Homo sapiens: one gene and its partner. The protein of the gene in region 1 purifies or fractionates together with the protein of each later gene. This does not show direct contact. Each region holds a gene or a part of one and is shown on either strand. Other genes may lie near its edges.

What was found. Proteins that work in one complex are often made in the same cells at the same time.
Region 2: the proteins of NEU2 (region 1) and ALKBH3 purify together in Homo sapiens (affinity purification with mass spectrometry; 3 studies listed by BioGRID and IntAct, with this or other methods). This does not show direct contact.

What each region holds. Positions count from the first base shown.
Region 1 is NC_000002.12:233,028,235-233,035,579, reverse strand, and holds NEU2 (sialidase-2), read right to left. Parts: upstream 2,909-7,345; coding exon 2,708-2,908; intron 1,465-2,707; coding exon 523-1,464; downstream 1-522. UniProt on the Homo sapiens protein: Exo-alpha-sialidase that catalyzes the hydrolytic cleavage of the terminal sialic acid (N-acetylneuraminic acid, Neu5Ac) of a glycan moiety in the catabolism of glycolipids, glycoproteins and oligosacharides.
Region 2 is NC_000011.10:43,911,826-43,918,854, forward strand, and holds part of ALKBH3 (alpha-ketoglutarate-dependent dioxygenase alkB homolog 3), read left to right. Parts: intron 1-437; exon of another isoform or gene 438-659; intron 660-4,843; exon of another isoform or gene 4,844-5,096; intron 5,097-7,029. UniProt on the Homo sapiens protein: Dioxygenase that mediates demethylation of DNA and RNA containing 1-methyladenosine (m1A). Repairs alkylated DNA containing 1-methyladenosine (m1A) and 3-methylcytosine (m3C) by oxidative demethylation. Has a strong preference for single-stranded DNA.

The sequences.
Region 1 (7,345 bases):
GCACAAACACGTATGCATGGACACACACGAACACACATGCACACAGAGACACATATAGACACACACGAACACACGTGCACATGCAGACACACACAGATACACACACATCTCTGCTAATTTACACCATGGTCTTCCATCTCAGTTCTTCCCCAGGAACATAAGGAATGGTTCCCAAGAAGGAAGGAGTTGAACTAGAAATTTGTCAAGACCTACACAAAGCTGGGGGTAGGGGACAGGCAGACAAGGTGACAGCTGCGCTGCAGGACCCTCCACGCCTTCCCTATGGAGGGGCTATGGGAAGCCAGACACTTTTGGTTTCTGGGCTGAAAATAGAACCTTTTGGGAAGACTGGAACCACGCAGGAGGAAAAGAGCAAGAGGTGCACCTCTCTCCACACACGGGCGCCGAAGGGAGCCCAGAGTGGCCCCCACGTCCAGGGGCCACGGGAAGGAGAGGCAGCCGCAGAGCCTCCGAGCTGGGTGTGCAGGTGAAAGGCAGGCCCTTGAGGTGGGCACCACAGGCTCACTGAGGCAGGTACTCAGCTGGGAAGGCTTGCTTCAGGGTGAACATGAGAAAGACAATCTCCTCGTAATCATTGGCTTCGTACAGACACCCAAACAAGGGGGACCCATCAGGGCCGGTGCCCATGCTCTGGAGGTCTGAGTAGGCACAGCTGCCCTTGGCCAGCAGTACCGGCTCTGACCAGGCCTCAGGGGCTGGAGGTCGCGGGTTGAGGTAGGCACCCAGGTCGGCCCTCTGCCAGGAGTGTGTGGGGTGAGTGTAGAGCAGCCACTGGGCTGGGGAGCCAGGCCCCGAGCGGGGGCTGGGGAAGCTGATGACGCTCCCCTGGCAGCCCTGGGGCGGCGGCTCCACCAGCTTCTTCACCAGCTGAGACTCCTGGAAATCAAGCCCGTCATTGGTGCTCTGGGCCTGGACCCTGGCTCGGAGGTGGCTTCTCGCGTTGAGGGTCACCACCCTCTGCTCCCCAGTCTCGACTTCGGCCACCTGGCACTCCAGGGTGTCCTGGGCCACAAAGTGCCCTCGCGCCCACGTGCGCCCATGGTCATGGCTGAGGAAGCAGAAGGCAGAGGGGATCGGCCTTTGGATGGGGTGAAGTTTCCGGTAGGCGTAGGCGGGCACCACCAGGCTCCGGGCCCTGTCGTGAAGCTGCAAACAATGCCCCGGGCCCACTGCAAAGGTGGACCACTCCCGGTAGGCTGGGCCGATGGCCGCATCAGTGAGGTCTCTGGGGGAGCTCCAGGTCCTCCCGTGGTCAGTGCTGGTGACTTGGCACAGCCGCGTCACATTGGCCCTGGTCTGCAGCTGCTGTTGCTCCGTGACTTGCCCAGGGATGGCAATGAAGAAGAGGAAGAGGGTCCCCGTCTGCGCGTCATACAAGGGGCATGGGTTCATGGACCGGTGGCCATCCAGCCGGGCCTGGGCCACCACCTCCTGAGCTTGCCACTGAGTAGGGAGAGAGAAAGAAGAAGGCAGCCTTGAAACAGCTGGGGATGGTGCCAGGAGCTGCATGAGTGGGAGGGGTGGGCACGGGTGTGTCTCCCGGGTTAGAGTCAAAAGTCATCGAGAAGAACTCTTCACCCAACACTCATATCCTCCTTGCAACGTTTCCCCAGAGCTGCGGGGCCCAGGGTGCCACCTCACCCCTCCAAGGCAGCCACACTCGGCTGAGTGATTCTGTTCCTTCCATTGCCATCAATATGCATTTACAGAACACCCACCTGCCAGACCACAAGATATGAAGATGACTCGTGCATGAGCCATTCCCAACTTCATCCTGGTTCCTCCACTTCCCACCCCAGTCCAGCTCACCATCCTTGAATAGCAAAGCCCTGGCGGAAGGTGCAATAACCTGACCAGTACAAGACAGAATGTGACGGTCACCTCTCACCTTCTACACTCCATATCCTACTCATGTAGCCAAGGAGGAGTCACATTGAGCTTCCAGAATCCCCAAGTCTATGTCACATGTGCTGTCTGTCCCCATTTATTAACAGCTACCCCCATTGGGCAATTCTAAGCACAGACACAGCACCAAAAGTCTAACATCCATGGTCTCATCTAATGCCTCAATCCCCAGGGAACAGGTGTTAGTAGCTCCATTATTACAGTGAGCAAGAGACCGCGACAGGGAGGAGGAGTTGCCTAGGCCACATCTGTGGTCAGTGGCGGAACCAGGACTTGAACCCAGGTCCATCTGCTTCAAATCCCATGCTTTGAACAGCTGTGTAGTAATGACCACAAAGGAATGATAATAATATTAAACTCTTCAAATATGATCAGCCAGCCTTGGGTGCTGTCATCAGGATTAATTATTTAATCTATAAAATGGGACTTTAGGACACAAGCCATCACCCCACCCCAAGTCCCCAAGTTAATTTTACTCAAAGGACACAACCCTCCATTATGCAACACTGAACTATTCCTCCGTGAGGTCATCACGGATGCTGGGCAACTCATTCAATCTTTCATGAAAACAGATGGAGGCCAGCTGGACTAATTCACAGTGAACCCAGAGGTCCAGGGAACCATTAGGGGCACTTTCTCTGCTCTATCTCTCCTCCGGAGTACAGCCATTGAGGGATAAAGTTGTCCCTGTATTTCTTGAGATCCAGGACTGGCCCCTGATCACAGCAGCAAAGGGTGTGGCAGAGCCCTGGGGAGCCAGTGCAGACACCTCCTGCCTCACCTGAACCTGGTGGGTGGGTGCGTCGTAGTCTCCTCTGCGCAGGACAATCAGCTCTGCGTGCTCATCCTTCTTGCTTGCCCGCTGTTCCGCGAAGGCCAGCAGGGACTGCTGCCCAGGCAGGTAGAGCAGGGCAGGGATTCTGTAGGCATGGGCTCCCGACTGGAACACGCTCTCCTTCTGCAGGACAGGAAGGGACGCCATGGGGCTGGGGGGTGGACAGGAAGAGAAGATGTGTCACCTGCAGCCACACCTGAGATGGGCTCAGAGTCATTCACCAAGACAGGTGGTGCTCACCCCCTGGCTGAGTGGACCAAAGTCAGGGCGGCCTGTCCTCTTCCCGCGTGGGGTTCATTCTCCTTTCCTACATCTCAAGACCCTGCTTCTTAATTCTGCCTTTGCCTCGGTGGATATCGGGAGGGGGTATTGCAAAAGCGTGTTTTGGATTCGATTTTTATTCTAAGTTAACAATGCTCCTTACAACAGATTTTCGATAACCTCCAGCTGCTTTTGCCAAACCCAGCCCATCAATCCAGGGGCAAACCTCGGGAGGACAGCAGTGCAGGCCGGGTGGCATTCGGCAGCTGCCCAAATGCCAGAAAGTGACACATGGGAGCTTTTTATAACTCCAGAGCCCTAGAAAGTTGTTTCAAAGAAAAGGAAAAAGAAAAAGCATGGCTTCTAAGGCTCTGCTCCCCAGGCTGCCTGAGGCTGAGGCCCGTCTGCCCCCGCTGCTGCGTGGGCTCCCCCTGAGGCAGCGAGGGGGCGGCGCTGCAGTGGGAAAGGAAGAGACAGGGGCTCCTGACAGCTAACCCAGGCTGGGGGCGTGGGGTGCTCCAGAGGTCTAAGAAAATAACAATTAAAAATAAGTCTTCAGCTAAAAAGGGTAGGGAGGGGACAGAGGTAACTTGGGGACAGTGGGTGACAGTGATTTTCGGGCTAAGCTGCCTAGGTCCCTTTAGGAGGATGCATCCCGCAGCTCTGGGGAGTGTTGGCTGCAGGGCCCTGGCCTGGGGAGGATGGGCCAGTTGTTCCCAGATGAAGAATCTGCCCCAGGTCATACCCAAGAAGGGCTGCTTGATGATTGGTCCACTCAGAGCCTGAAGACCCTCTTCCTGAACTCCTGACCAGGAACAGTGCGGCTCCGGAGCTCCCTCCGGGCGGCTGGGCCTTCCCTGAGACTGCATTACAGCCGCCTCTTTCTCTGCTGCTCCTCCCTTTCCCCCAGAGGCTCTTGCCTGCCGTGGGTCTCCGTGTCAGAGCCGGCGTCCTGGGCACCCCGTCTGAGACACAGCCTTTGCAGAGGGCAAGTGGGCAAGAGGCCAGCAAGAGGGGCAAGGTTTGCCTTTGTGCACCCTTTTGTACTGCTCTCATTTTTCTACCACATGCATGCGTTATCTATTTAAAACTTAGCTTCTTTGAGAAATAAATGTAATCTATCAGTCTTTCATTCAACCACAGTGAACGTTAATATTAGGACGATGTGAGAAAATAAAACTGAGAAGGGCAAAAGCTGCACAAGGAAAAAATGTGCTATTCCCTGAACTTCGGTGGGAGATTCATGGCTTGGTGATAGAATCACCAAATTATAATCCAAGGACACAGGCCTTGATAGGTATCGGGAGGCCTATGCTGAAACGCTGTTAGAAAATGTCAGCAGGAAAGAATCAAATATGATAACAAGTAAAAATGAAAATGGAGAACTGTGCAGTTTCACAGTGTTCTCTGGAAAATTGATCAAGGATTTATTTAAGCTCCATAGAGTGGGCTCTGGAAAGTGTCCTTGATGGAAATTCAGCAGAGTTGGTATAATTCAGTTTAAAATGTTTGTATTTAAAATGTCCTCAGGGCCAAAATTTCTGTATGGATTACAATGGCTGGCCTTCTCTACACAATGTGGGAGGAAAGGAGAGAAGAAGTTTAGCTGAGGAAATCTTTTTTTTTTTTTCTTTTTTTTTAGATGGAGTTTCGCTCTTGTTGCCCAGGCTGGAGTGCAATGGCGAGATCTCGGCTCACTGCAACCTCCGCCTCCCAGGTTCAAGTGCTTCTCCTGCCTCAAGCTCCCGATTACAGGCATGCACCACCATGCCCAGCTACTTTTGTATTTTTAGTAGAGACGGGGTTTTTCCATGTTAGTCAGGCAGGTCTCGAACTCCTGACCTCAGGTGATCCTCCCGCCTCAGCCTCCCAAAGTGCTGGGATTACAGGCATGAGCCACCACGCCCGGCCAGCTGAGGACATCTATAAAGACATTCTAGAGGGAAAACAAGACAGAGACGTCTTCGGGAGGAATCACAAGGCAAGACACACACCAGGCCTTTGGGGTTGAGTAGGGGTCCAGCCTAAGGCCTAGGAAACCGGGCTGATGGGCTCCATGAGGTGAGTGTGACCAGAACTGGTGGCTCATGCCTTAGAGAGAAGATGGGGCAAGGGAGAGAACAGAGGCTTCAGGCTAGAACTAGGGAGCAAAGCCACTGGCTGGCCCACCCTCAAGAAGAGAACCACTCTCAATGCTTACAATTGAGATATGTGACCAGGCACAGTGGCTCACGCCTGTAATCCCAGCAGTGGGAGAGGCAGAGGCAGGTGGATTGCTAGAGTCCAGAAGTTCCAGACCAGCCTGGGCAACATGGCAAAACCCCATCTCTACAAAAAATACAAACATTAGCCAGTCATGGTGACACATGTCTGTAGTTCCAGCTACTCGGGAGGCTGAGGTGGAAGGATTGCTTGAGCCTGAGAGGTGAAGGTTGCAGTCAGCTGAGATAGCACAACTGCACTCCAGCCTGGGCAACAGAGTGAGACCCTGTCTCGAAACAAAAAATAAAATAAAATAGAGATATAATTCACATATTATAAAATGTACCTTTTAGAAGTGTATGATTCAGGCTGGGTGCAGCGGCTCACGCCTGGAATCCCAGCACTTTGGGAGGCCGAGGCGGGTGGATCACCTAAGCTCAGGAGTTTGAGAAGTGTATGATTCAGTGGTTTTTTTAGTATTTTCATAAAGTTATACAGCCATCACCACTATCCAATTCCAGAATATTTTCACCACCCCAAAAGAAATCCCATACCTGTGAGCAATCACTCCCCTGTCAATGAAAACAGTCAAACTCTGTAAAATATTTGAAGAGATTTATACTATACTATACTATACTATTTATATATTTGGCTATAAAAGAGATTTATAGCCAAGTATGAGTAACAAATGGCTCGTGACACAGCCCCAGGAGATCCTATGTGCCCAACGTGGTCAGAGTACAGCTTGGTTTTATACATTTTAGGGAGACTTAAGACATAAATCAATACATGTAGGATGTACATTGGTTCCGTCTGGAAAGGCGGGACAACTTGAGGTGGGAGTAGGGAAGGCAGTTTCCAGATCATAGGTAGATTCCAAAAATTTTCTGATTGGCAGTTGGTCAAAAGAGTTTATCTAAAGACCTGGAATCAGTAGAAAGGAATGTCGGGTTAAGATGAGCGGTTAGCTGGGCGCAGTGGCTCATGCCTGTAATCCCAGCACTATGGGAGGCTGAGATAGGCGGATCACGAGGTCAGGAGATCGAGACCATCCTGGCTAAAACGGTGAAACCCCGTCTCTACTAAAAATACAAAAATTAGGTGGGTGTGGTGGTGGGCGCCTGTAGTCCCAGCTACTCGGGAGGCTGAGGCAGGAGAATGGCATGAACCCGGGAGGCGGAGCTTGCAGTGAGCCGAGATTGCGCCACTGCACTCCAGCCTGGGCGACCGAGGGAGACTCCGTCTCAAAAAAAAAAGATGAGCTGTTGTGGAGACCAAGGTCTCATCACGCAGAGGCCGCCAGGTGGCAGGCTTCAGAGCTCTTCGCAGACCTAAAAAGATGCCAGAGTCTTAGTTAATTCTCTCCTGGATCAGGAAAAGGCCTGGAAAGGGAAGGGGATTCTCTACAGAATGCAGATGTTTCCTCACAAGAGACAGCTTTGCAGGGCCATTTCAAAATAAGTCAAAGAAATACATTTGGGGGTAAAATACTTTAATTTCATTCAGGACCTGCTATCTGTCCTGATGCTATACTAGAGTTAGTTTGGAATTTGGTGTCTTATTGCTACAAAAAGTCTGTTTCATCAGCCTTAAGATCTGTTTTAGTCAGGTGCGGTGGCTCACGCCTGTAATCCCAACACTTTGGGAGGCCGAGGCAGGTGGATCATCTGAGGTCAGGAGTTCAAGACCAGACTGGACAACATGAAAGAATCCCTGTCTCTACTAAAAATACAAAAATTACTCAGGCATGGTGGCACATGCCTGTAATCCCAGCTACTTGGGAGGCTGAGGCAGGAGAATTGCTTGAACCTGGGAGGCGGAGGTTGCAGTGAGCACTCCAGCCTGGGTGATAGAGCGAGACTCCGCCTCAAAAAAAAAAAAAAAGATTTGTTTTAATGTTAATGCTGGTCAGCTGTATCTGAATTCCAAAAGGAGGAAGGTGGGAGACACGTCTGACCTCTGACCCCCACTCCCCATCATGGTCTGAACTAGTTTTTCAGGTTAACTTGGGAATGCCCTTAGCTGAGGAAGGGTCCACTCAGTTGGCTGAGGGGGCTTAGCATTTTACTTCTGATTTACACTCCATTACCCAGTCCCCTCAGCGCCTGGCAACCACTCATC
Region 2 (7,029 bases), on another chromosome or scaffold:
AATAAAAAAGGGAGCGGCCAGGCGCCGTGGCTCATGCCTGTAATCCCAGCACTTTGGGAGGCTGAGGTGGGCGGATCACAAGGTCGGGAGTTCGAGACCAGCCTGACCAACATGGTGAAACCCCGTCTCTACTAAAAATACAAAAAAAATAGGCAGGCGTGGTGGTGCGCGCCTGTAATGCCAGCTACTTAGGAGGCTGAGGCAGAAGAATCGCTTGAACCTGGGAGGCAGAGGTTGCAGTGAGTCGAGATCGCACCACTGCACTCCAGCCTGGGCCACAGAGTGAGACTCCTTCTCAAAACAAACAAACAAACAAAAAACAAGAAGGGAGCATAGAGCCTCAAAGGTTGAGCTCACTGCTTTCATCACTTTGTTTTCCACCTGAAAAATCTTAATTTGCTTCTGTTGGAACAAAGGATAAAATAGAAACTCCTTACCCAGATTGCCAAATCCATACATGATCTTAGCCCAGGGAGATCCATGGACTCTCACTGTTCCCGTATGGTTGCTCCATTCTACTAAGTTATCTCTTTGCTTTCCCCGAGGCTTGCTCTCCAACTTCTTAACTTAAAAGGGCCCCCTATAGCGTGAAGGCTTTCCTGATGCCTCCAGTGCAGAAATTAATAATAGTTACTGTGTGCCAGGTGCTTCCTGTGAACCTGTAAAACAAGAAACAGGTAGCAGGCTTCTACCTTGTCCTTTCTGCTCATTTGTGTTTTGTTTTTATAAGTGTCTTCTTAGTACAGAGATGGAGGTTTTTCTATTTTGCTCATCTAAGGAATCAGAGATGATGTGGAAAACCAACTGCCTCACTGTTATCTGAGATCAGTAATTTGGAAGCATATTTTGCTTTGAATGACTTTTTCTGATTGAGTTAGGGGTGAGATGAAGAATGTGATAATTTTTTAAAATCATGGCATTTATTTTTTAAAATCTTAATATATTAAACAATACAGTTTCAGATACAAAAAAAATTACTGCAATAAAACAGTTGAGGTGTATTTCCATTGTGCTTCCCTTCCTTATCAGGAAAGTACATTGTCCACTGAGAGACAGGATGGATGGCCTCTCCCAGCTCTACACAAAGCACAAGCCTACTGGCTCTCCTGGGCCTTGGTTAATACATGGAACAGGCTATGTTTTCTAAAATGTTGTAGCAACACTCATAAGTCAACCATGGTTCAAAAAGTCAACCATGGTTCAAATCACATATTTACATATTGATCAATTCTTTATGATAGACAGACATAAATGAGATACAGTAAATAATTTCCAGTTGTTAAAAAAAAAAAAAAAACAAGTACAGGCGACAAACTTGGTCATGGTACACAAATATACTTCATGTGTACAGACAGCTTCATTCAGGTCTAATTTTTTTTTAATTTTTGTTTTAGGTTAGGTATATTTGCAGGTTTGTTATATAGGTAACTTGTCTGTCACGGGGGTTTGGTATACAGATTATTTCATCACCCGGCTAATAAGCATAGTACCCGATAGGTAGTTTTTCCGTCCTCACCCCCGTCCCGTCCTCCACCCTCCATTATTCAGGTATAATTTTAATTTGAAAGACCTAGATATACTATTATTTAAGTGATAATGGCCTCTAAGATTTATTCAGATTACTATCAAATAATAAATTAAACAAATCCACTATAATTTAAAACTCTGTCCATTGCTTGAAACCTTGGAGGAGCCTATGCTACAATCAGTTGCTAACTAAAAGCAATTGTACGTGTATTTGATATTTCCCCACAGTTTCTACCTCTAGATTTAATTCAGTAAAGGAAGATGATATTTGAAGATGAAGTAGCACTTGTGTCCTGAGCATCTCTCAGGCACTACTGCATGGAATGGCAAAGGGGATGCAAGAAGCACATCAGATGACAACGGTCTTAGACGCTTACAAGTCTGCTAAGGTGACTGACAAGGGAATCAAAGAAGGCAGTCATGTCATGGACCTATCAGCAGCATAGCTGGGCAACCCTGGAGCTGAATCTGGCCCTCAGACTTGTTTAAATTGCCCAGTGTTTTTAAAGACACTGAATTAATTGCGAAAATTTATAACTCAGGAAATTTCACATAAAAATCCCACTTGTCAGCTTCCCTGGAAAACCCAGAAGAGGGGGCAGCACTGGGGGAACAGTGATCTGAAATGGCTCATTGGCAGAGCAGCCACCACCTTTCTGCAGGCCCCTGGTTCTGCATGGGTCCCTCTCCTCCCTGTGCTGCACCCAGCCCACACCTCTCACTTATGCTACTTGCTGGTGTTTGTGACCCCTACAGTATAGTCAGGGTGCCATATAATCAGGACAGGAAATATTAGGATTTCAGAAGGAATAGAGCTTACCTTGGAGAGCAGAGTATAGTGGAAAGAATAGGGCTTTAGAGCCGGGCCAATCTACATTCAAATGCTAGCCTGCCCTCCTGCTAGCTTTTGCCTTAGAGAAATATTTTCCCTCCAGCTCCCTTTGCTTATGATAAAATGGATAATATCACCTTCCTTGCCTCCCTTACAAGGTTGTAGTGAGGATTAGCAATAACGGATATAGAGTGCCTGATGTGCCTGGCACCTGAGCACATGCCATCGTAGATCTTGTGGAAGAAGTCTGGCAGGATGCTTTGGTTTAAGTACCTGGAAACTGTTATAAAAAGAAGCATGGAAAAAAAAGAATAACCCAACCACCACCAAAAAACAAACTCCATGTAGATTAAAGAGTTAAATCTAAAAAATGTAAACTCTTAAAAAAAAAACTAAAAGGAAATACAGTTGTATATTTAACTTTCCTCAGGATGGGAAAAGACTTTCTAAGCATAAAAATCATGAAGACGAGCCAAAGAAAGGTCAGTAGAGTTGACTCTAAAATTTTTGAGCTATTCCATGTTAAATACCATAAGTACAGTTAAAAGGCAAATAGCAAATGAGAAAAGCATTTGCAAAAAGTATGACAAACAAATGCCTTAATATCTGTGGTTGTAGATCAATAAGAAAACAGTGTTAACACCCCCATAGAACAATGGACAAAGGACATGAACAGAGAGTGTTCACAGCAGAAGAAACACAAACAGCAAACAGAATGAAAAAAAAAAAGTTGAACTTGGGCTGGGTGTGGTGGCTCACACCTGTAATCCCAGCACTTTGGGAGGCCAAGGCAGGTGGATCACTTGAGCCCAGGAGTTCAAGACCAGCCTGGCCAACATGGTGAAACCCTATCTCTACTAAAAATAAAAAAAAATTAGCCAGGCATGGTGGCAGGCACCTGTAATCCCAGCTACTCGGGAGGCTGAGGCACAAGAATCGCTTGAACCCAGGAGGTGGAGGTTGCAGTGAGCCGAGATCACACCACTGCACTCCAGCCTGGGTGACAGAGTGAGACTCTGTCTCAAAAAAAGAAAAAAAAAAAAAAAAGAACTTGGCTTGTAATCCAAGATCTCTAAGTTTGAATGAGTTGTCATTTCTCCCCTAATTGTTTTTCGTTACTGTCAGTTGATAATGTTCAGCCAGAAGATAGGTACTGTCATGTTTTCCTGGTGAGATTATAGATTGCTGCAGCCTTCTCAAGAAAGCAGTTTGGTAATATAAATCAAGTGCCTTAAAGTTCATACACTTGGCTCCAGTAATTCCATTTTTTAAGAATATATCCTAGAAATATATGCAGAAATGTTTTGCCCAAAAATCTGCTTGCAGCAGCTTTTTATTTATTTTCCCTCTTTTTAAAAAAAAATACTGGTGTATGAAAATCAATCTCCAACCATGTGCTCCTTACTGCTCCATCCTTAGTACTAGCATAATGCCTGATATATACAGGTGGTCAAAAGGTATTTGTGAGTTTAAAGGAAGGATATGTTCATACAAAGGAATATTCTATAACCATATTTTTGAAATGTATATTTAAAGATATAGAAAAATGCTCAATAAAATATTAAAAATGGAGTACACACGATTGTATATCTGGAAGACTCTGTGTGTATGTTGTATAAACTCTGGATGATAGGATTACAGGCGATTTTCTACATTTTCTGTGTACTCTTCCTCAGTCATTCAGTACATATTTATTCATATGTGTGATAGGCACTGAGAATGTTTCTTAACAGGAAGACCACATAAACTTTCCCTCATGGAGTTTATAAGAGCAGAGGTTGAATAAATAATTACAAGTGCATCATTTACTTTAGTAAACTTATGTTACTTTTTATATTCTAGAAGGAAAACCTGTATGATGATTTTAAAGCATTGATGATTGTTTGTAATTTCTAAGACATTCTTTTAGGACAAGAAAGGGATGATTTTAAGAAAACTCCAAATCTCATACAGTATGAATTACCTTTCCAATGGAAAGAAAAATGTTTAGGTTTCCCATCTGTTGGATGGTTAATAATGACATAACAGTAAATACATCCAGATTTTTTCACCCCAAATAGCATTTTCTTAAAGGAAACTGAATAGGATATGTTGGTGAGGTGGAGGTAAGAGTTGTGAGAAGCTTTAGAAAAGCATAATTAAGCCTTCAAATGAACTGGCTGCGGTTGGAGGAATGAGAATGTTGATCAGCATTAATATAAAAATACATGTTTTTCGCTTTTTCCATGTACTCGTAGGGTTTCAAGTATTTGGAAAACCAAGAACATCAATAACAAAACCCACCCTGTAGCTTGAGTGTGACCCTAAAAGCTGCTTTTAACCAGGATGAGTGATGGAAAATTTTATCCTTAGCCCTGGTTTTGGGGGGTGTGTTTTGTTTTGTTTTGAAGAAAACCCTGAGTAAATCAAAAGGGCTACAGAGATGTGTTTGGGTAACTTAACCACGCTTAATGACTAGGAAGGCACTCTTCTAAACAGTCTGACCTGTGTTTCCACTGTTGCTTATCCATTTATCAACTGGAGCCTTTATGCACAGCCATGTGGGTTCCTCTGGCCTTTTATCTGACTCCTAAGTGGAAACAGTCTCCATGCATCTTGCTTCAGTTGAAGGGCATCTTGCTTCAGTTGAAGGGTGGCTCTATGGTCTGTTGCCACTCTGGCCTCGAGGGAAGGATGCATTTGTGAGCTCTGTGTTGCATTAGTAGGATCCCTTGCCCTCTTTCCTGTCTGTCTCCTTCTGCAAATTAGGAATGCATCTTCTAAGTCAAAGATCTTAGAAGGAATAAATAACAAGCAGCAAAGAATGATATCACTTCTCACAGAGGGTACACTGTGTAAGGGTGTCTCCTTTGTGGACTGATTCGAGTGGCTCCCTCCCAAACGAAGGCTCACCCTTGTCTGCTTTTTGGTATGGCTAATGGTTATGTTGAATGTAATGTGTTCAAAACCAACCTGAGACTTTCTCTCATTTGAAAAGTTCAGATCTTAGGAACAGTATGTGAAATGTGATCATTGAACATCACTTTCCATCAGTGCTGATACATTTCGGAATTCTCTTTCACTTGTGAGGTGGATTCCTGCTTCATGTTTCCAGGTGGAACTATAGTGTTTACCTATTCTCTTCCACTGATCTAGCACCTCCTTCTCCCCAACAGTGTTTTTAATGTTCTAGGAGATCTTCATCTCAGAATTGCCTTCATGTTGTGGTTAAGTGTCTTTCCTTTCTACTTTATTTTATTCTCCTTAGTGTCTGTACTTGATTTGTAGATTAAGCCCATGTTGCACTCTCTGATTATGTAGAGGGTAGCAGAAATTCTTCTGCTTCTAGCTGTGTTGAACCTTGATCTGATAGCTGACTATACAGCCTAAATTAAGGAGCCTTGGACTGTCTAATCTCATGGTCAGTGCACTCCCTCCGGATATCTTTTCCCCAGTAGGACCATGTGTCTCCTCTGTCTGGATTTTTTTTTTAAATCAGAGCAGCGTTTTGCTTTTCTGAGATGGAGCTGGGCTGCAGTGAGGGCAGGGTCACCTTCCCACTGCCCTCTGGTTGTCTGAGGGGTCAAAGGTAAATGTTTTGGTGCCCACTTATTACTGGAAGAGAAAAGGTGGCAGACACAATTAAAATCAATCACTGAAACCAAAGTTATTTTAAACATTGCTTCTATCTTCTGTCTATAAAAATTATGACTATGCTTGACAAAGTTACTGCCAAAAGTTGGGGCCTGGAACTTAGACTGTTTATGCAAGTTCATGATTGTTTTGATTTTGATTTTCCTAGGGAAAATCTTTGTAAACAGTTAAGTTCTCAGAAGCACCCATACAGTAATAAACATAAACACAGTTTGCACTGAAATCAATCCTGCAGTAACCCAAATGTAACCCTTTCTACCGGAAGTGAAGCAGATGAATGAATAGACCCATCAGTTCTGCCCAGAATGGAGGTGAAGAAATCAGGAAGCTCAGATCTGTCCCAGTCTCAGCACTTGACATGCTCTTTGTTGCTGTGAGCACAGAAGTTGTTTAATGCTCCTGGTTTTCAGCTGTGGAGGAGCCACACTACCAGTTAATTGCTTTGCAGCTTATGCTCTGAAGACTCCTGAGAATATTGGACATAAATTGCTTTTGAGCTCTCTGTGTAAATACAAAGCATTTGTATCCTAAGTGTACAGGAGTCGTGATCCATCCTCAAAGATGTAAACAGCCAATCTCAGTTTGACAGCACTGTTTTGGTCAAGCCAGAGCTCCCTTTGAGAAAATCTTGCTGTTGTCTGTTCTGGAAAGAGGCAGGAATATGTCTCCAAAACTCCATAGTAGCCATGAGAAGAATTGAGACTATAGGTGCCAATTAGTAAATTAGCATACATTGTGAAAAGGTGAAGGAAGTCATCGCATCAAATCTTGGTTAAAAGGACATTTTTCCCACACTGAGTATGTCAAAATGTAGAGCACAACATCAGTCAGATGTAAAGAATTCTTGTACAGGTGACTTTTATTTCCTTCTTAGGCCAGAATGGGCTTTTCTGCATTTTGGATTATGATGATGACACTAATAGCTAGCACTTACTGCATGCCAATCTTCAAGGGATTTACACATATTCTATCAATGGAGGCTCACCATAGCCCTAGGTGGCAGTCACTGTCATCCTCCCCATTTTACAAATGAGTAA